Linked DNA regions of Homo sapiens. The protein of the gene in region 1 interacts with the protein of each later gene in a pairwise test. Each region holds a gene or a part of one and is shown on either strand. Other genes may lie near its edges.

Region 1 (7,423 bases):
TGTTGTTCAACCTGGCTCTGGCCAGGCCTCTGGCCTAAGAGTGATGGTGTGGGGGCTTGCCGGCCTCACGCCCACCCTCTCTCCACCCAAGAGCCACGCCCACAAAATGTTCAGAGCCAGGAGGACTAGCTCAAAGCTACTCTCAGTCTTGGACTGGAAGAGCCCCACCTCTTTCCACCGGAGGCCCTGAATATCAGAGTGGGGAAGGGCAGGGGGCAGGGATGGGAATGCAGGGAAGACAGTCCCCCAGAATCTAAACTTGGGGTCAACTTGGGGGTTCTAGGCTCCTTTCACCTCTTCGCTACTCTCAGCACAGGAATTTTGAGTACATATTTTCCATGTACATAAAGGGTTAGCTTGAGAAAAAGCAAGACCCCTCCTTCTCATGCAAGAAGGAAGTTGTAACCCGGAGGCCCAGGGTGCCCTCCGTCCAGCATTGTGGGGTGGGGGAGATGGGGGAGGGTGTCAGGCAGGGTGAGGGTCTGGAAGATACCCCCAGCCCCCAAGCTCAAGGACTGACTGCGGCACCCAACATTAGATTACAAAGGTTTATTTAGAAAATAGTTTGGTTGTTTTGGCTGTTGTTTTTGGCAAACATTTAAATACTTTCAGTAATCAAAGATTGTCGGTGCTTTCTCCTTGCCCCCTGGCAGCCACCCCCCGACTAGGTCCTGGAGAAGTCAGCCCTTGGTCAGACGGGGATGGGGAGTGGTAGTGTCTTTGGGGGGCTCCTTGCTTGCCCATTTAGGGGGCTACCTCTGCCACTGCTCTCTAAAACCCTGACCTCACAGCCACACCTCGGCAGGGCTCCCAGAGCTGGATCCAGGCAGGGAGCCCCAGAAGCAGCCCCTTGCTGAGGGGGGAAGGCAAAGGGGTCTCCCCCTCTCTCCTCCCCACTCCCTGGAGCCCGGCTATCTCTCTGCCAAGCTCCTGCCCTGCCGCACCCTCCCCTGCGCCCTGGAGGCCAATCCATCCCCGGGTCTCTGGGAAAGCTCCCCCGTCCGGGCCGCCCCTTCTGCCCAGCCCCGAGCGCGGAGCTGTCCAGGATTCCCAGACGGGTGCGAGTCACTGCCTGAAGCCCCTTCTCCTCCGTCGGAAGAGGATGTGCTTAAAGGATCGCCGGAAATCCTGGTTGAAGACCGTGTAGATGACCGGGTTGAGCGAGCTGTTGCAGTAGCCGATCCAGAAGAAGAACTTGAAGAGCGGGCCGGGCACCTGGCAGGCCTCGCGGCAGATGCCGTACAGGCTGTAGCTGAAGAAGAAGGGGAACCAGCAGAGCACGAACACGCCCATGACCACAGCCAGCACAAAGGTGAAGCGCTTCTCGCGCGCCTGGGCCACCTTGCGGCGGCACACGCTGCTGCGCGCCCGGCGCCGGCGCGACAGGAAGAACTCGACGGAGCGCGAGCTGGCGCGCGACAGGCGGCCACCGGGCCCCGGGGACCTGGAGGCGGTCAGCGCCCCCGACTCAGCCGCCCCCGGCCCCGCCCCCTGCCCGTCCGCACCGCCCGCGCCCCCCTCCGCGCCCGCTCGCCGCCGCCCGCCCCGCCGCAACGCGCCCCGGCGCCGCCGCCTCTCGGCCGCTGCGCTGCTCTCGTCCGGCTCCACGTCGGCGGGCGGGGGCGCGCAGTGCCCGTTCTCGCCTGCGCCTGCCGCCGCGCCCAGCCCGTTTTCGGTAGTCGGGGACGCACCGTCGGGGCCCACGGGGGCGCGCTTCTCGCTGAGCGTGCGCGTGCGCAGCTTGGCCACTCGGTAGATGCGCGCGTAGACCAGGCCCATGATGAGGCAGGGCGCGAAGAAGGAGCCGATGCAGGAGGACAGGATGTACCAGGTCTCGTCGTTGAGGCCGCACTGCGGGTAGGCGGCGCCGTCGGGCTGGCGGTAGAGCGAGACCAGCGGCGGGAAGGAGATGACGGCCGAGATGAGCCACACGGCCACGATGGTGGCCTTGACGCGGCGTGGTGTGCGCTTCAGGTTGTACTCGACGGCCTGCGTCACCGACCAGTAGCGGTCCAGGCTGATGGCACACAGATGCACGATCGACGAGGTGCAAAACAGCACATCGAGCGCCAGGTACACGCCGCACCACACCTGCCCGAAGTACCAGTAGGCCATGAGCTCGTTGGCCAACGAGAAGGGCATGACCAGCGTGGCCACCAGGATGTCGGCCGAGGCCAGCGACACCAGGAAGAGGTTCTGTGGCGCGCGCAGCGCCCGGCTGGTCAGCACGGCGATCACCACCAGCACGTTGCCCACCACGGTGAAGACGATGAGGAAGCCCACCACGGCAGCCAGCCCTGCCACCGCGCCCGCCGAGTACTGGCCGCGCGGCGGCCCCCAGGAAGCCCCCGAGGCATTGGCAACCCCGCCGCTGCCCCTCTCGCCCGCGCCGCTCGCATTGGGGCCCGCCGCTGCCGCCACCGCCAGCGCCGCCGCCAGCGCCGGGGACGCCATGGTCCTCCCGCGAGCTACGCCGTCCCTCCTGGAGCCGGGGCGCAGCCGCGGCAGCTCGGGCGCCCCCCAGCCGGGGTCGGCGCCCGCATCGCCGCCTGCTGCTCGGGCGCGCCCGCCGGGGACCGCGGCGCCCAGCAGCCGGCCCTCGGCCGTGGTGGCTCCGCGGGCGGCGCGCCGGAGAGCGTGGCTGCCGGGCTCCCCGCAGCTGCCGAGCGTGTAAGTGCAGAGCAGGAGGCGCCCGGAGCGAGCGGCGACGCGGCTGCGGGGGGAGGGGGGCAGGTCCCGGGGTCCTCGCGCGGCCCCGCCCTCGGCCCGGCTCACGGGGAGCGCCCCGGCGTCGAGCCCACGGCGACGCGGCGCCCGAGCGGGCGTGCCTGAGCGGCCCCGCGGTCCCGGAGCCCAGCCGGGGCGCAGGCGACAGGCGGCGGCGGCCCGGGCGCTCCGCCTCCCATCCGGCCGGCTAGGGCTCGGCGCGCCGGGGCGCCGGCCGCCGCTCCTCCGGGCCCCCGCGCCCGCGCGCTCCCTCCGTCTCCAACTTTACTTTCCCGGGCGGGGCGCCGGCGCCGCCGCGAGTCCTCCGGCTGCTCCCGGGCGCGGGCGCCCCCCGCGGTCCACGCTTGGCCGTGCGGCCGCCGCCTCGCTCGCCGGAGCTGCGCCGCCGCCGCCGCCGCCGCCCTGCGCTGGGCGCGAGTGCGGCCGCCTGCGATCGGCTTCCAACTTGGGTCGAGTTGCGCAGCGGGGCGGGCGCGCGGGGCGGGGCGGGCCGCGGGCCCTGGGGAGCTGGCCGGGAACCGGAGCCCGCGGCCGCCTGGTCGAACCTGCCCGCGCGGCGCCGGGGAGGAGTCCGGGGCGGCGGCGCGGGGCGCGCGCTCGGCGAGGGCGCCCCCTCCAGGGCCGCCTGCAGCCTGCGGGACGGGGCCGAGCGGCGGCCGGCCTGGGTGGTGAGTTCCAGAAGCTGCTCTTTCTAAGACTGGAGCCTCCTTCGCCTCCCCCGGCGCAGGCATGGGCGCAGGCGGGGGCGCGCACACGCGCGCGCGCAGCACGGGCGGCTCGGGGTCCATGGCCTGATGGCAGAGCAACCTCTCGCAGCCTGGGGGAGGACGCGACGCTACCTGCGTGCGCACAGGTCCTGCCGAGCTCAGGGTCCGGACCAGATCCTGGATCGGCGCTCCCCGTCAGAGCCACCTCCGCACCCACCCCGGCCTCAGTTCCCTCGGCCCACTTCCCAGCGCTGCTGGAGCATGAATCATAACTAACGGCGGTGTCTGTGGAAGCCCTGGGCAAGCTCCCAAGCTCTGCACCCATGTTAGCAGTGATTGAAGTTTAATCCTTAGGCTCTCAGGCCCTGCTTTTAAAGGATGGAGAGGTGTTCAAAGTCACCACCTCTGACAAACACCCAGAACGGAGCTGCCTGGATGATGGAGCTTTTTGCAAGGGTGGGCTCAGGGGAGAGCGGCCGTTGAGGTAGCCCCCGTGCACCCTCGCCCCCGTCCGCGCACCTCCATTCTGCAGATGTGCACTGCCACGTGCACTGCCACTCTGTGGCCCATGTTGGGTGCTGGCTTCTGCCTCCAGGCAGCCTGGGGTCTGTGGGAGAGGGACTTCCAGGGACGAGGTGATCCAGGAGGAGAGCTGGAGTTCTCAGGCCTGACGTTTCTCTGCTAGGACCGAAGGGACGACCCTTCTCCCAAACGTCCAGAAACGAACCCCAGCTGGCTGGCCTCTCCCTGCATGGGCCCGCAGGAGAGAGGGAGGGAAGGTCTGTCCATCCTGTGGCTAGAACCGGCGGGGAAGGGGCGCTTCTGAGTGCCCGGGAGGTCATCATGAAGAGCGGCTGGAGTGACTGCCCTACCCCCGGGATGCCTATCCATGCCCGTGGCCTGGGGCAGCTTCTCTCTGAGCTCCTGAAGGGCGCCAGCTTTAGCCTCAGAGCCTGTCGTGTTCTCTGCTGCTCAGCCCTACTGGGGAGCATGTCTGTCTCCGCAGAGACACTGCCAGGAGCTACGGCTTCGTTCTTCACCATGTTTGTCACCAGCAGGGCCTGCATTGGGGGTGTGGAGGCCGAGCCAGGGCCCGGCAGAAAGCAAATATTTCAGATGATGGGCCTGCCAAGCAGGGGCGCACGTTGGAGCCAAAGCCTTCTGTGCCAGTCCTGTGCTAGTCTAGGGCACATATGCCCTTCGGGGAGGCAACAGGCCATGGCTGTCCTGTGGGAGGTGTGTGACCTGGGGATGGTGGAGGGTCACCATCCTTACTAAAGGCCCTCCTGGTTCTGGTTGCCTAAAAGGTGCCACCTGTCCAGGGCACCTGGAGGTGCATTTTTCAGGGAAGCCCACACACACCTGCTTCCTTCATGGTCGGCCCGCTGGAGCCCTTGTCTCTATTGAGCCCTCTGCGATGGCAGAGAGTGAGGGGGGCCTGGCCTCAGTTGAGGTGCTCACCATCTGTGGGTGGATGGGGCCACCCACTGAGGTGAATGCGCTGACAACCATCAGTGCCCTGGGGCTCCTCCCCCAGCCTGGGAGCGGGGTTGTCAAGGAAGCCTTCCTGGAGGAGGTGACCAAACTGTGCTTAGAGAGTGAGGAGGTGTTATGAGGAAGGGGGAGGCCTCTGTAGGCTGTCCTTCTTCCAGTGGGAGTGGGCTTTGTACTGGGGGCGTGGGGAGACAGGAGGACTAGGAAAGAGCAGTGGCAGGGGCCAGATGCAGGCTTTGGAGAAGGTCTCTCTCCCTCGGCATCAGCGTGCCTCCCACCCCCATCCTGAAGGGCTCTCTTTTTGAGAAGTGCTTTGGGGGATGCGCAGGGGCATGGGGATCTATCTAGGATCCTGGCTCCTATGTTCCCAAGAGATGGCAGCCCAGGCACGGGAATTTGGAGGGAAAAGGACACGGAGCACCTGGGGCCCTGAGCCAGATGAGCCTCCCACTGCCCAGGAGGGCTGAAGGCAGGGGCCACTCACAGGCCAGGCTGAGGGCATCTGGAGTGCCTGGCCAGTGAGCGGCCCAGGCCCTTGGGGATGGCAGCCAACAGGCTGACATGCTGCTGGCAACACCTCCTGGCATGACCAGGGAGGGGTCAGAAGGGTCCACTCCAGGGCCTGGATGGAGCCAAGGGCAAAAAGCTGGGGCCTGGAGTCATTAGGAGGAGCGAAGCCCTGGGCCATGCATAGGGGTTGCATTGCACGCAGGCCTGCCTGTGGTGGGAGGGCCCGGGACCGCAGCTGTTTGCAAGGAAGCTGGAGAGGACTCTTCCCCCAGACCTTGAAATTAGGCTTGAGGAACTGCTCCGGATTGTCCGTAACAAGCAGAACAGCACGTACCCAGCAAGACTTCCTGTCCTGACGAGGCACGACGCGAGCTGGCACGACCAGGAGGGGCGAGGAAGGAGGGTGCTGGGGGAGTCAGGCTGCACTGGCGGGGGTTGTGGGGGCTGTCTGTGTGTACGTGTGCAGGGGAGTACATGGCAGAAGTGGGCATATTTCAGAGGGGAAACCTACAGGTGTTTCCTAGAACTGAGAACCTAGAAGTGGCACGTCCTGGAGCTGCAGAGGCGAACCTGCCTGTATCTCACCCATGATGCGTGGGGCCTAGGAGGACAGGGTTGGTCCAGCAGGGCCATACAGCCATGGGACATTGGGCCCTGGCTGCTGTGCCGGAGAGAGCTGGGTGCCTGCCTGGGATGCCGCGCTCTAGGCTTCGTGAGCAGCCTCAGCTCGGGTGGAGGGGAGTTTGGCTCCTTGAGCCCCCTCCCTGCACATGCAGGCATGCATGCACATACGCAGATGTACAGTGTCCACACACATATATGTATCCACACACATCCTTGTGCACACATAGATCCATGCACACACATGAATATACATATCATGAATACACGTGTGTTCATGCAAGCATGAACACCCATACATACACATATCCACACATGCATGCAAGCATGCAACCTATTCATGCACACTTGCATGCCTTCACACACACATGCATGCACACATCCACACACACACTGTCTACATATACCATGTGGATTTACAGTGCATCCATGCCTACAGAATATACACACATGTATGCACACATACATGTTCCCACACATGCACACATGCCTGCGTGTGCATACACATGCCCGTGTACTCTTCACATGCAGGTGCATATATACATATGCACTATCATACACACGTGCTTTTTGCACACGTATGTCTACACATGCATATGTATCACACTGGCATATGTAGAAATGATGCACCCATGCTGTGCACACACCTGTGCATACTGCGGGCACGCACAGCCTTCCCTGTGCAGATAACACGAATCCATGCACATTGCACACACGTGTGTATGCCTGTGCTGCACACATCTGTCCCTATGCATGACACCAGTCATGCATGTGCACACATGGCTTCGCATATATGGATGTGTACACACATATGCGGCACCTGTGGCCTTGCCCACCCTCCTAGGCTGAGGAGAAGATGTATTTCTGGGTTGCTGCTGCAGCCAGCTCTTCCGGGGCTGCGGCTGGGTTCTGCCTCGCCTGCCTGGTCTGCACAGCTCCACCTGGCTCCTGCGGTCAGCCCTCCTCTCCACGCTGTGAGCTGTGAGGACATTTCTCATTAACTCTTGTGGACCCTGGGCCTGACCATGTGCTGTCCGCAGGCCTGGATGCCCTCTGCCTCATCTTTCCTGGGGCTCGCTTCCTTCAAGACTTGTCCCATGATGTTCCTCCTTCAGGAAGCCTCCCGTGACCTCCCGGGCTGGATCTGGGCCACTTTTGCCGGCCTCCTGCATGCCCCATGGGGCATGGCCATCATCAGTAACCATACATCTCAGCTGTGTCCCATCCCCACTGCCTGGTCCAGGGCTGGGCTCTCAGCTCACAGAAAGAGCTGAATGAAGGCCTGGTGGCAGGATGGGTGCCGTGAAGGGCAGATGGGCTTGTGGGCCTGGCTCTAGCCTCCTTAGCCGCACTGATGCTTGCTG
Region 2 (7,133 bases), on another chromosome or scaffold:
TGAAGATAATTTTTTTTTAAATTATAGTTTAAGTTCTGAGATACATGTGCAGAACGTGCAGGTTTGTTGCATAGGTATACATGTGCCATGGTGGTTTGCTACACCCATCAACCTGTCATCTACATTAGGTATTTCTCCTAATGCTATCCCTCCCCTAGCCCCCAACACCCCAACAGGACCTGATGTGTGACGTTCCCCTCCCTGTGTCCATGTGTTCATTAATATTTTATTTTTGGCCGGGCGTGGTGGCTCACGCCTGTAATCCCAGCACTTTGAGAGGCCGAGGAGGGTGGCTCACTTGAGGTCAGGAGTTCGAGACCATCCTGACCAACATGGAGAAACCCTGTCTCTACTAAAAATACAAAATTATCCAGGTGTGGTGGTGCATGCCTGTAATCCCAGCTACTCGGGAGGCTGAGGCAGGAGAATCGCTTGAACCCGGGAGGCAGAGGTTGCGGTGAGCCGAGATCGTGTCATTGCACTCCAGCCTGGGCAACAAGCCCTAAACTCCATCTCAAAAAAATAATAATAATTTTGTTTAAATTGAGACTAATATCCTCAGTAAGCACAGTATTAAAGATGTAGTGTAGGCTCTGTGAACAACAGCTATTAAAGTACCATAATCTTTTTTCTTTTCTTTTTTTTTTTTTGAGAGGAGTCTCGCTGTGTCGCCCAGGCTAGAGTGCAGTGGCACCATCTCAGCTCACTGCAAGCTCTGCCTCCCGAGTTCACGCCATTCTTTTCGTCTCAGCCTCCTGAGTAGCTGGGACTACAGGCACCCACCACCACGCCCGGCTAATTTTTTGTATTTTTAGTAGAGACGGGGTTTCACCATGTTAGCCAGGATGGTTTCGATCTCCTGACCTTGTGATCTGCCCACCTCAGCCTCCCAAAGTGCTGGCATTACGGGCGTGAGCCACCGCGCCCGGCCTTTTTTTTTTTTCAAGACAGAGTTTTGTTCTTGTCAACCAGACTGGAGTGCAGTGGTGCGATCTTGGCTCACTGCAACCTCTGCCTCCTGGGTTCAAGTGATTCTCCTGCCTCAGCCTCCTGAGTAGCTGGGACTATAGGCATGAGCCACCACGCCTGGCTACTTTTTTGTATTTTTAGTAGAGACGGAGTTTCACCATGTTGGCCAGGCTGGTCTCGAACTTCTAACCTCAGGTGATCCGCCTGCCTTGGCCTCCCAAAGTGCTGGGTTTTGGTTTTTTTTTGAGACAGGGTCTTGCTGTGTTTCCCAGGCTGGAGTGCAGTGGCACAATCACGGCTTACTGCAGCCTCGACCTCCTGGGCTCAAGTGATCCTCCCACCTCAGCCTTCCAAGCAGCTGTCACTACAGGCACATGCCACCATGCACTGCTAACTTTTGCATTTTTTTGTAGAGTTGGTGTTTTGCCATGATGCCCAGGCTAGCACTGTAATCTTAACACTGCCTTATATATTGCTTATTAGATACACCTTTGTGTACATGTGTGTTGTTTTCGATTAAAATTTCCTAATTATGAGGATAAGACCTTTTATTCTTATTTCTGTTTTTTCATTTTTTATTTTTAGCTCCGACTCAGATTTTGAACGGATGTTTGCATGTATACCACAGTGCTACATTAAAAACCAGTCATGTGGATGTGGAGAAGGGTGCTGATCAGGACTCCCTGTTTGCTAACAAATTCTACAGCAGAAACAAAGTATTAAGGTTTGCAGCCAGGAAGCAAGTGCATGGGGAATAAGCCTGCAGCTTCTTCCAAATGAGACAGAGCCAAATCTTTTTTCTGAGTCTGTTTTCTTCATTTCTATTAAACCAAGGTCCTTTTTAAGCAGTCGAATTTCATCCAAAGCCAGAGTGAGCTACTTTGTTTGGGGGAACAGTAACAGTTACCTCCACCACTGACTGGCTGCCATCTGGATTGATCCGGAAAGATCCCATCTGAATGGTCTTCTTGGGGTCCACCTGGGCAATTTCCCATTCTAGTTCATCCACCAGAGCCCTGCATGCTGGTGGAAGAGGAGAGAATGAGAGCAGGGGACAGGGTAGGGGGTAGGGTGTGAGGAGAATGGGATCAACCCAGGATTTCCATTCATCCTTCTCCCAGGCCTTGGATCTCATGCCCTCCCAAGGCTCTGCTTCCTCCACTTCTTTTTCCCGTTGTGCCTTTACCTCCACAGTGGAGATCCTGGCTCCTCCGAGCCCAGGCGGTTCCCAGCAGGGCCCCCAGAAGCAGGGCCAGCCAACCCCAGCCTTTCATCTTTAGCGTAATGGGGTCGCTCCACCTGGGTTTGAGTGGGAATAAAACATAAGTGTGAGGAGCCGACTCCATTTTTCCCTGACCCCCCCAATCCTCACCCCAAGGCTTTCAAAGGCCTCATTGTGACTCTGGCTCTACTTTCCAGGAAATGGCCGGGACACAAAGGGGCTTCTCTGTTCCAGCGCTTGAGGGCTCTGATTCCCCCAGGGTGGTGGGTGGGAGCGCGAGCTCAGGACTTGCGGCTCAGCCCCAGACTCTACGTGGATAGGTGAGGCCCTAAGTGTTGGTACTTTAGCACTGCATGCCTAGGGTTCACGGGGCTTTGTGGCAGCTACAGGAGGTAAGTTGGCGATTACGTGAGGACTACAGGCACTAGGGAACTGCCGGCAGGGAGCCCTCAGTCAGGCCAGGAGGCCAGCGAGGAGAGCAATAACTAGGGCCCATTTGGATCCTGCACCGAAGATTCCTGCGTCCCCACCTCCAGCCCGTAAGTGATTACCCGTACGGACACCAGCCCCCTTTCTAAGGACTCCGCCATTGCTTTCGCTTCAGTCCATCCCCAACCCTCAGCGCCCAGCGCCTCGCCGCCCGCATCCGTCCCACCTCTGCTCCCAGGGCCGCCGCCGTGGCCCAAGCGCTGGAAGACCGCTGGACTCTCACTTTGGCCCCAGTGGCTCCCGAAACTACACCTGGCTGCAGGGAGCAGGGCTGTCCGGGATTCTCCAGAGCGCTTCGCCGCCTGCCACACACGGGGTGTCCCGGCGACCGCCTGACCCAGCTCCCCTGACGCTAACTGGTACCTAAGCGGGACTCCAGCGTGCTGCGGTGCGAGCCCCAATCAGACACCGACCCCAAACCCGCCCCTCCAAACTCTCGCGCGAACAGGCAGCTTAGGAGAGGCTCCCGAACAGCAAGGACCCCGGTCAATCGCCGAAGGACCCAGACTTGCGTGGCGAACAGATCCACGTGACCACCAGGGGTCAGCCGTAGAATAGGAGTGGCCTTAAGCGACGACAGAGTCCGGGCGTGCTGTATGGGAGCGGCTAGTCGTGCGCGTGAGCCAGCCCAGGTGGGCTAGGACCTTCAAAACGGTGCGCTGCCGGCCAGCGAGCAGTCCAGGTTTCAATACACAGGAAACTACATCTCCCAGGAAGCACCGCAGCACCGGACCCATCTTTGTGAGCAACTACAAGTCTCAAGCTATCCTGGGACCTGTAGTTTGTCGGCTTACACAATTAACGGAAACCATACTGTACATCTTCAGTCTGACTTAGGGTACTGGGCAGCTATAGCAAAGACCCAGCATTGCCCAGAAAAGGCATAAATTATACCTTTTTCCCCTTTTTTTGAGACGGAGTCTCGCCCTATCGCCCAGGCTGGCATACAGTGGCGTGATCTCGGCTCACTGCAACCTCCGCCTCCCGGGTTGAAGCAATTTTCTGCCTCAGCTAGGGTTACAGTCGCCATCCACCACTCCCAGCTAATTTTTGTATTTTTAGTAGAGACGGGGTTTCACCATCTTGGTCAGGCTGGTCTTTAACTCCTGACCTCGTGTTCCACCCACCTCTGCCTCCCAAAGTGCTAGGATTACAGAAGTGAGCCACCGCGCCCGGCCTAATTATACCCTTTCATATCCATAACTTTGGATTCCGGACCTTTACCTTCAAAGGAAGGAGAGGAAGACTGAAGCCAGAGAACCCACACTAGCAGTTCTCTAATGAGATAAATAACAAACGATATTTTATTTTTATTTTATAAAACATGCAGTTTACAACAAATTTTTAAAAAATGGAACAAAACTTGGGACAGGCAAGTGGGATGGAAGACAGATGCTTCTCAGCCATCAGCAGGAATAAATGAAGCCGGCAGCCAAGCTTTGTCCAGGATCCAAAGGCCCTTTTGGCAATGGTATTGGCAACACTGGTTTGCTTGGGCCACCAACACTCTACTTGCTGGCCCCTCCAGGTATCCCTGAAGCAGTTGGTGACTTGTGCTAAGTCTTGAACTACTGTGGTATCCTCTGTCACTGTCCAGGACTTCAATCCCTAGCCAGCTAGGAACTTACAGTTATGGTTCCAGGAGCTTCTCTGCCTGGATATTAGTCACCCAGGATATTAAGAATACCAATTACTTTCCATCTGGGTCAATTCTAGACTCCATGTCTGTACCACTGTTTTGCAAAGAATGAAGAAGGAATGAATCTGGCTCCTAGAACCTTTGCAACAATTCTGCTGTGTTCCAGTTCAATTAATAGCACCATCTGTGACCCTAGACCCTGAGCACGTCCAGTACTGGAAGTGGACAAGGTATAGCCAACTTAGGAAGCCATCTCCCAGTTCTGGGGCTATAGAACAGTAAAGGGAGAGGGCCGTGGTTCTTTGGGAAGGGTAGTCAGAGCGCCAGCACTGAGGAGAAGACAGCTGCATCTGTCAGAGACAAAACCAAAAGCATGATTCAAGCTGAGTGGAGAAAAAGCATCTTCTCATACTTCCTATGAAGGAAAAATGCAAGAGAAAAAAGGGCATGGACCTTCCCTGAACATTTTAGACTTGGGCAAGAGGAAGTTATAGTTAATGGAGAGTTTCGATAAAATGTATTTTACTGAATGTTAGGAGGATGAAGTGCTTTGTAAACTGTTAAGTGCTATTCTCCATATGTGCAATCAAAATCCACCCAATTGGGGGCGCTCAGGCTCATGCCTGTAATCCCAGCACTTTGTGAGCCCAAGGTGGGTGGATCGCTTGAGCCCAGGAGTTTAAGACCAGCCTGGGCAACATGGCAAAATCCTGTTTCTACAAAAAGTACAAAAATTAGCTGGGTGTGGTGGTGTGTGCCTGTTGTCCCAGGTACTTGGGAGGCTGAGGTGGGAGAATCACTTGAGCCCAGGAAGTCGAGGCTGCAGTGAGCTGTAATCACGCTACTGCACTTCAGCCTGGGTGACAGAGTGAGACCCTGTCACAAACAAACAAAATACAAAATCCACCCAGTCCAGTTTCCCTTGTCCCATCCCAGGTCTTACTCTTGGGACTTGTTTGGCCCTCAGGCTCAGGCACCTTCCAGTCCATCTTTCTGCCCTTCTCATAAAGACCCTTGAGCACCTTGTGGAAAGACTCAGGCTCAGTGCCATTTTTGCTTAGCTCCAGATACTTTCGGTACAGCTGAAGGGCTGTGCGGGCATCCTCAATACTGTCATGGGTTTCCCCTTGAATCTTCAGGTCTGGGGTAAGTAAAGGTGGAATAGTTTGGGACCCAGCAAAGGGAGGTAGGAACATGTCTCCCCACTCCTACCTGACTCCAGAAAACTAAAAAGCCTGACTGCCCTTAAGGAAAATTGTCAGACATCTTCCTCAGTGCACAGAAGGGATATTGAAGTTAATTAAATCCATTAGTAACTGTCACCACTAACTGAGGGTCTCCCCTACTCCCATTTTGTCCTCTAACACTTTTCCTACTTTTTCTTTTCCCCCCATGCTTTTATTTTTTATATTTAAATTTTATTTTAGATTTGGGGTACATGTGCATGTTTGTTACATGGGTGTATCGTGTACTGGTGGGGACTGGGCTTCTGGTATCCCTAATATGCAAATAGTGAACTATGCACCCAATACGTAATTTTCAACCCTCACCCCTCACCCACCACCCCAACTTTTAGAGTCCCTAATGTCATTCTTATGTCCATATGTACTCATTGTTTAGTTCCAACTTATAAGTGAGAATATGTGGTATTTGATTTTCTGTTTCTGAGTTAGTTCACTTAGTATGATGGCCCACAGCTCCATCCATGTTGCCGCAAAGAACATGATTTCTTTTTTTTTAAATGGCTGCTTCTGCTATTAATGTAGCAGGGGCCTACAAGGCAGAGCAACTCACCCAGAAAGTACCAAGCAAGGAATCGCAGGGAAATCATTCGTTTTCGGGGCATATGGAACAGGTAGACAGTGTCAAGGACTTGGTCCTTGGGCACCTGGCAAGGATAAAAGAGGGGGAGACTTAAGGTAGGGGACCTATAATTCCCCATTCTCTAAAGGCACAATGTATACCCTGAGGGGCCCACTCTCACAAGAAGACTCTTAAAAGAGCCCTGCCAAACCATCAGGTTGATGACCCGGAAGTCCTTCTGCAGGCCATGACCCACAAACTTGACTCCAATGTCAATGAGAAAACGAAGCTTTAAGTAGGTAGACTTGAGAGTTGTTAGGTGCTTGGAGGAAATTTTGGCATCGAGGTCACCAGGCTTTATACCCGAGTATTGAGTCAAGTAATCCACCACCTAGGAATAGAGAAAAGGACAAGCCTTTTTCAGGAAGTGAGATGGAGTCTTCCCCTATCACTCTTCCCTGGGTTCTTGAGCACTGTAAGTAAGCACCAGGGTGTGCCTCACTTGCATCTCCATATCCTAATACCTGCTCCTGGGTAGAGATGTAGTCATCAATGAAGGGGATACCCTCATTGGGTCCCTGGCCCCGAACACAGGTAATCCTGGCTACTGACATCTGGCTTGGTTTAATGGTAGACTTGGTACCATCACTGCGTAACTCTGCTTCCTCCTACATGAGAAGAGTTAATAAGGAAATCAGAGAAATGCTTACAACTCCTAATATCCTCAGCGTTCTCTTCCAATGCCCCATCCCTTTGGTCTTGGTTACCTCATTAAGGGTGACAAACTCAGCATCCAGACCCACCAGGTCCCCAATCTGTGGCATCTCATTCAGCATCAGTGGAATAAAGGTAGTATGTGTTTTCCGCTGCTTCCGTGCCAGCGAGGCTTCAGCCAGCAAGACACTTGCCTCAATAGGGTTCTTGACTAGAAGGGAGAATGCAGAGGACACAGGGCTTGGATAGGGAAGTGACTAGGGGAGAGAAGCCCAGTGTGGCTGATCATCGACTCTG
Region 3 (7,040 bases), on another chromosome or scaffold:
CTTTTATTTATTTACATTTTCAAATTCTTTTAAAGAATACTGAAACTATATTGGTACCTAATATTTTGCTTCTGATGCATTTCTCTCTGCTTTTCTCTCTCTCCTTGCATGTTCCTTCCTTAAACATGCACACACACGAGTATGCACACACACACACAATGAAGCTGGATACCACTTAATAAGAGTAGAGGTGTATGTGTTTTGGGGGTGTCAAACAGCTGTCACAAACTGTCACCTCCACAAGAGAAACCTTGGCATACAACAAATTAAACTACACTTCTTTTTTAGCTGTCATTATTCATAGCCAATAAGTTGAAATGCTCTCAGCATTTCATGTGCAAATAAAACCAAGAGGAAGCTCAGATCAGAATAGTGGGCCAACAGATAAAACAAGAAAACAACGCGCTGTCTGGGCCTTTCTGAAGTGGCTCATCATCACCCCTGCACCAGTGTTCACCAAATGAGATCCAGCCTGGGGCAATGTATTAAATATGCATATCAAAGCAAATGAAAAATAAACCTGAAGATTCAAATTGGGCACATTTACATGCTGAAAATGTCCCACTCACACCACTTTTCAGGTAGTGGTTCTTTGTTATTTTTACTTTGTGTTTGGCTAGGGGGTTGAAGGAAGGCAACTTTGTAGAAGAGGCTGAAAAGCATAAGAGGATTTGCTTTGAAGGGGGAAGCCTGGACATGAATACAATCAATACACCTATGGTACAAAAGTCTCAAAAATGGTGAAAACTCTCCAAGGTTTTCTCTCATGTCCCTGCATAAAATACAAGTCTGTGGCAAATCTCTCCGTTTTCTACTTGGTGTGCTGGTGGAACAAATTATTGCTTCCTTTCAAAACAAATAGCAGGGGGCTAAAGTAAAAATGTTATAGTTCAGATCTCTAGGAAATAAAAGGCTTTAAATTATGACACCCAATGAAGTGGCAAGCCCTCATGGGTTCAAAATAAATCAGTTGTCATATTTACTTGACTGGGGGCCTGAAAGGAGAGCAACAAATGTTACAGTTGACTCTTTTATCCAAAGATGATGATTGATAAATTATTAAAGCACTATCCTCTTAGGTACAACTTCCTTCTTGAGTGGATATTTAAATATTACAATAGTCTCATAAATTGATATTGTCTATCAGCCAATACTTTAAACAGCCTATTTTATCTTATCTTTTCTATGTAAACATCAACATGGTCTAGCTGTATACATCCACTGGAAAAAGAGTTGCCAAGAAACTGTTTTAGAAAACTAAGTAGTAGGTACTCCTAGAAATATCATGAGAAAAGCTTTTGGCTCCGAGAACTGTGAACCTCTCATTTTACAAACCATGTAAATAGATCCCTCCCCAGTCTCCCAATAATGTGAATAAATATAAATATAGAAACAGAAAACAATGAAAATAAACACACAAAAAACAACAAATGTAAATATTTCTTAGGTAGTGTCATGCCTCATGGACCACAACACACTGTGGAGCCACAGATCAGCAAATAAACTTTCCATAACCACTGCTGCATCCTTTTGATTTCATTACATTCACTCAATATACAAAGGAGATCACCAAAGATTCCCTCACCATGATGGAAAAAGGTAAGGGTAAAGAGATAAGAATAGGAGCCTTCAACACCGCAGTATTTATTCTGTCACAGAACTGGATATCCCAGACTGCGGTTTTCTTTTCTAGACTTTTTCTAACTTTTGTTCTTAGGCTGGCTTCCCATACAAGTGCAAAGGTTAATTATGAAAATCTATGACTGCATATTTTCAAAACTTTTGTCTGGAGCAGGGGAGAGAAGAACCTCATAGAAGGTTTATACTAAGGCATCCCAATTCATTTCTCATACCAGTCAGGAATTGGGATGGGAGGTAGGGACAAACTGCCTTCAAGCCTTAATGCCTGTTTAACTCACACGGAGTGTCAAATTAATATTTCGGCCACAAAGTTATTAAACTACAGCTTATATTATTTAGGCTGTGAGTTCAACTGAATGTAATCTATAGACACCCTGTCCCCCATTTCCAGGCTTGAGTTCCTATAAATAAAACTGCTGTTCACACCCACTCTTTAACCTCGCCACTCTTGCCTTTCCTACCAGCTGCAATCTTTCTTCTCTTTGCTTCTTTTTCAAATTTTCAGTCTCACTACATATGCTTTTTTTTTTTTTTTTTTTTTTTTTTTTTTTTTTTTTTTTTTTTTTTTTTTAGCATCAGACTCACTAGATTGGTTCCAAAATAGGATTAGAAACAGAGAGAATAGAAAGAAATCTCCTTTCCTGGCCTGACATACACAGTCATTTCTTACTATACTCTCCATCCTCATTCACCAACTGTTAAAGTGTTAAAATTCAACCACTAACCTATGGTTACTCAATCATAATTCCCTTCAGCTTTCTGTAATACATTGTTAATAATTGGTTCATCAAGGTTACTGTCTTTTATTATGAAGATGCTTCAGGCATTTGGCAATAAGTCCCTATTCTGACAATAAGTTTCTATAGCAAAAGCCCTGAGAATTGTAATGTGTTTGTTCACCCCTTTTATTTCGAATGCAGTGCAAGATTGCCAATAATTCTCAGAATTGTCATCTCTGTGACATACTAGGAAATCAGCACTCACTCAATTCTCTTTCATTCAGTCCTCTCTCTCCAGACCAGTCCAGCTAACTGTCTTGCTTCTTTCTATCCCTGCTGCACTGATTACACAAAATTAAGAAAGCAGAAAACACAGTGGTGACTATATCAAACAGAATTTGCGAACACCCAAGTCACCAAATCCAGAAAACTTTACACATTAAGAGCACAAATCACTCTATCAACTCTGGTTTTTTGGCTCTCAACATAAATAGGAGGGGGTCCAAGAAAGGAGAAATGAAAATGAAGGGTATGGCAGAGAAAGCAAGAAAGAGAAGAAAAGACCCCAAAAGAGACGGAGTCATTTAAAAAGAAAACTAAATCAGTGGAGCTAGATGTTAAAACAAGGTTAAAATAATGCTTTGCCCAGTGGCCTTAAAAGATTGCTAAAGGCTAGCAGACTTACATGGTCAGCGAGATTTGTGGAGGAGCCTGAAAGTTCTTCATGATCTGACTTGGAGCTGCCGTCTCTTTCATCAATGACGAGGTCGATGGGCATTTTCCCCTTCAAACAGCTAATGTATCGGTGGCAGAAGTTATCGCACAGTTCGTGGACCTAGAACGAAGGTCATGGTGGAGGGTTTAGCTCATGTTGTTGTTGTTGTTGTTTTGTTTCATTTTTAGAAAGGAAAAATACCAGGTTGCAAGGTTACATTTGCAAAGAGCAACAGTGTGATGTCTTCCAAACTAACTCTAATTAAAGGGTGTAATAGTTGAAGGCAAGGAAACAATAGAGTAATTGTTGCAGCAGATATTATTCTCCAGAGACTTCTCTGAGCAACAAGTTACAATAGAGAGAGAAAGAAACAGGACTGGAAATAACTGGGTTCAGAGTGGGAGTCCAGGGAATTAAATCTGATTTGATAATAACATCAAAACATTACAACATTGGAGCTGGGGAGAGCATTAACGTTTGTGATTTTATAAGCTAGGGGTTTCGTATGTTTCCAGGGGAAAGTAATTGAGCTGCAGAGCAATGTAAAGACACCCAGCAAGGATGATTCACTCTGCCTGCACCTAATGCAAACCCAGGGCCGAGGGTGAGCTGAGCTAATAAAGATGCAAGCAGGCTGAGTGTCCAGTAACATAAATGGTTTGCTGCATTTCAAAATAATCCTGAATGCCTGAGGGGAATATTGGGGAGGAGGAGGCTACTTTAAAGGCAAGGCTGTCCTGATTCACCCACCCTCTGAGCCCCTGTGTTGAGAAGCGAGTTGAAGGATGGACATGGTTACATGCTCAAAATCTCCAGGTGCTCAATCCCTCACACTAGAGGTTTGTTAAAAACATCCCAACTCAACTAGGAGAGGGAAATGGTTTAATCAACACGGGGAGCGTTATTTCCTGCTTACCTTTTCTAACTCCAAAAGATGAAACCTTAGTACTTGTATTGCTTGTATCATCTGAAAGAAAAGTTCAGGGAATGGAGTTAGAGCTCTGTGACTCTGAGGTCCTGTCTTGGGGTTGGGAGTGGGGTGAGGATGGTGGTGAGAAAGTTGGGCTGGGGAGAAGAAACGGGCAGGTGGCCAGGAAAAACTTAAACATCAAGAAATAGTCAGAAAAATCAAGTGATTACTGATCATCTCTGCCTCATTGGCCACGGGGTAGGAATCTGACTCAACCTGAGCATAAGCATTAATATCTTTCCCCCTGATGTTCACTGTGCTATTTGTAAGACTGCTTTCCTCGGGCCAGGCCTTTTTTCTCCTCTTAGTCCTCTTTAAACATCCCCTCCCTCGACCTCAGGACAACTTTTTTTTTTTTCCTTAAAAAAAAAAAAAAAAAAAAAAGGTCCCTTCTCAGGATAGAAAAAGCTTTTTAGAACAGCATACCCAGCGAAATCCTTCCTCACTAAAGAAGGAAATACTCAAGATGAATGCTGAGGCAGGGCCTTTGAAAGCGGATTTAAGTACTTTTAATATTGAAATCGTGCAAATTAGCAAAAGAATCGCACCTAAAAGTGGCCTGCGCTGGCCTGCCCCTCACCGCCCCCCAGCCCCCACCCCCAGCCCGCCCTCAGCCGTGCCAGTGGTTACATCCTTCGGGTTAGCCGCCCGGGGCTCGGCCGCCTGCCCCGGCAAACAGAGGAAATAACTCACTTCTCGCAGTTTACTCCTGGGGCCGAGACCTGGGAAACATCCCCTGCTCGCGCTCTCGGCGCTCGGTCTCCCGTTTCGGCCTCCCTGGGCTTCGCTCCCCACCGCGTTCATCCTGCTCCTCGCTCGCCAGCTCCCGTGCGGGGGCTCTAAGCTGCTCCCTTCCTCCCTCTCTCCCTAGAGCTCCAAAAGAGGGTTCTGTTCTAACTCCCCAGAGCTCCAGCAGAAAGTGGGTGCTTCTGGGCATGGGAGAGGGCAAAGGCTGGGGAAAAACAAGGAACAGAGAGCCTTACCAAATTGTCCAGCTCTGGATTTGAGGAAAAAAGTGGCTTTTCGGCGCGAACCTGTAAGAAACAGAGAGTCAACTTGAACGATCACCCCATTTAAAATAAGAAAGCTGAAATGTGAGAATGGGTACGGTGGAGGGCAATGGCGGAGAAGAGGAAAGGGGCTTTGGCAAAATACAAGAAAGAAACTGGTGCCTTAAATTAGTGGAGTCCCTGAAGAAGAATCAGGGCATTCTGGTCCTGGCCCCATTAAGGGGGACCTGGTACGACTAAGCTGTAGCCAGGAACTCAGGGTCGTTCTCAGGGCCTCGAGTTCCATATCCAGCAGTCCAAGAGGCTGTGGCTCTCCACTGCTGCCTGGGACCGCTCGGAGAGGCGCCCAGCTTCCTTGCCTCCCGGGCACTCCCGGGTCCCTCACAGCCCCTCTCCCCAATTCTTGTTCAAGTAGCTGGAGGCGGGGGAAAAAGGCCAAGCCCCAGATTAGGAGCAGGTCAACTTTAATTCGAGGGTCGACCCCTGTATTCCTGCTGGGGGGGAAAACAAACACCCATATTTATCTCCACTTCCAATTCGCCCCCAGGCTCAGGGATGGGGAGGAGGCGTAGAGAGCGGACTGGGCCAGAGGAACAGATAGGGTGTCCCTGGCCTTTCCTCCTTTCAAGTAAAGCTCCGAGGAAAGGGGAGGGGTAGTGAGGGACTGCCCGAAGTTGAGTGGATCAAGAAGGCTGGACCTGCTTGGCGAAGACCGCGATGTCCTCGTTGAAGGAGTCGGAGGAGCAGACGTCTCCGCCAGCCACTCCAGGTTCCCGGGGAGTGCAGGTCGCCAGCTCGCACTTCTCAAAGACCAGAGCTAACAGAGGAAACAACGGGTGCCTAACGGGCAGCGCCACGCAGAGACACACACACAGAGACGGGGTGCAGAGGGGAAGGAGCAAGAACTGTAATCAACAAGTTTGGAGGGTGTGGAGTCCTTCTTTAATACAACAGGCACGCACCACACTTTACAACCCTTCCTCCATCAGGCGAGCCTAAGCCAGAAACAGAAAGGGAAAAGGGCCTGGCCCTCTCCCGCAGCTCAGAGGTCCCTCAGATCTGGCCAGAGAAGACCCCGGCCACTGCAGCCCGACAAATAAAAACAGCCTCAGTTGGAACGTAATGAAACATCCGAGACGCTCAGGCAGTCTGGAGCCCGAGTCGATTCTGATCCACTCCCCACACTACGGAGGCCGCGGAACCAACCCCTGAGACCCAGCCCTGACCTCCCAAGAAGGGAACACTGTGTGAAATTGAAAAAAAAATAGTTTTAACTCTGCATTTTAATGGGCATTTCAGACGAGGCCAAAGGCTTCACCTACATACACACCGGAGTGACACTTCATAAATGCAAGAGAATGCTCTTTTAATCTCTCCACCTCCTTGCCTTATAAACTTGTTTGCTCCTGTTCTACTAAAGCCACAGTGTGGGGGCCAAAATAATAGGAAGGTTACACACTGGAGAGCTTCCTTCCAAAGACCACATTTCTCCCAGCGTTGCAGCAGACAAAAATAAATAAATCGTGTTTTAAAACTTTAAGTGTGCGTGCGCGTATGCCCTTTGTGTTCCTCCGGGCGGCTTAGCCACACTTCGGGATGCTTGCGGCCTCTGGCTTGGGGCTCAGTTGCTGTTTACCCACTGTCCCCTCCCCTCGGCATCCCGTCGCTTTGCCCACCTACCCTCAGCCGGAAGAGCTCGTGTGGTACACGTTAGGATCGTGCATCTCACCCCTCGCCAAGTGCTCTCAGAATATAAAATAATTTCCAGCCATCTTCCTTACTCCCCCTAAGAGCGGCTCCAAGCAAGCAAGAGTCCCTTCCACCTCGCTGCACTTCGAGGTCTGCCCCCTTTATTTACAGAGAATTAAGAAGTGGGTGATTAGGACTTCCTGGCCGACAGAAGCAGCCCTGATCCCAGCTCAAGCTGCTGTTAGTGACTCCCAGACCCTCAGTAGGAAACAGAAGAAAAAAAAGTAAAAAATAAA

The links. Proteins that work in one complex are often made in the same cells at the same time.
Region 2: the proteins of ADRA2C (region 1) and CNPY2 interact in binary tests that used the Homo sapiens proteins (3 or more experiments, as listed by UniProt).
Region 3: the proteins of ADRA2C (region 1) and MEIS2 interact in binary tests that used the Homo sapiens proteins (3 or more experiments, as listed by UniProt).

The regions. Positions count from the first base shown.
Region 1 is NC_000004.12:3,761,638-3,769,060, reverse strand, and holds ADRA2C (alpha-2C adrenergic receptor), read right to left. Parts: upstream 2,677-7,423; 5' UTR 2,455-2,676; coding exon 1,066-2,454; 3' UTR 535-1,065; downstream 1-534.
Region 2 is NC_000012.12:56,312,975-56,320,107, forward strand, and holds the start of CNPY2 (protein canopy homolog 2 isoform 1 precursor), read right to left. Parts: upstream 3,015-7,133; 5' UTR 2,847-3,014; intron 2,269-2,846; 5' UTR 2,244-2,268; coding exon 2,156-2,243; intron 1,993-2,155; coding exon 1,877-1,992; coding exon of another isoform or gene 1,826-1,876; exon of another isoform or gene 1,521-1,825; intron 1-1,520. Other genes in the region: PAN2-PAN3 deadenylation complex catalytic subunit PAN2, read right to left, coding at 4,635-4,669, 5,263-5,460, 6,114-6,207, 6,334-6,513, 6,647-6,790, 6,890-7,047. UniProt on the Homo sapiens protein: Positive regulator of neurite outgrowth by stabilizing myosin regulatory light chain (MRLC). It prevents MIR-mediated MRLC ubiquitination and its subsequent proteasomal degradation.
Region 3 is NC_000015.10:37,090,536-37,097,575, forward strand, and holds part of MEIS2 (homeobox protein Meis2), read right to left. Parts: intron 5,896-7,040; coding exon 5,754-5,895; intron 5,080-5,753; coding exon 5,029-5,079; intron 4,043-5,028; coding exon 3,992-4,042; intron 3,196-3,991; coding exon 3,046-3,195; intron 1-3,045. UniProt on the Homo sapiens protein: Involved in transcriptional regulation. Binds to HOX or PBX proteins to form dimers, or to a DNA-bound dimer of PBX and HOX proteins and thought to have a role in stabilization of the homeoprotein-DNA complex.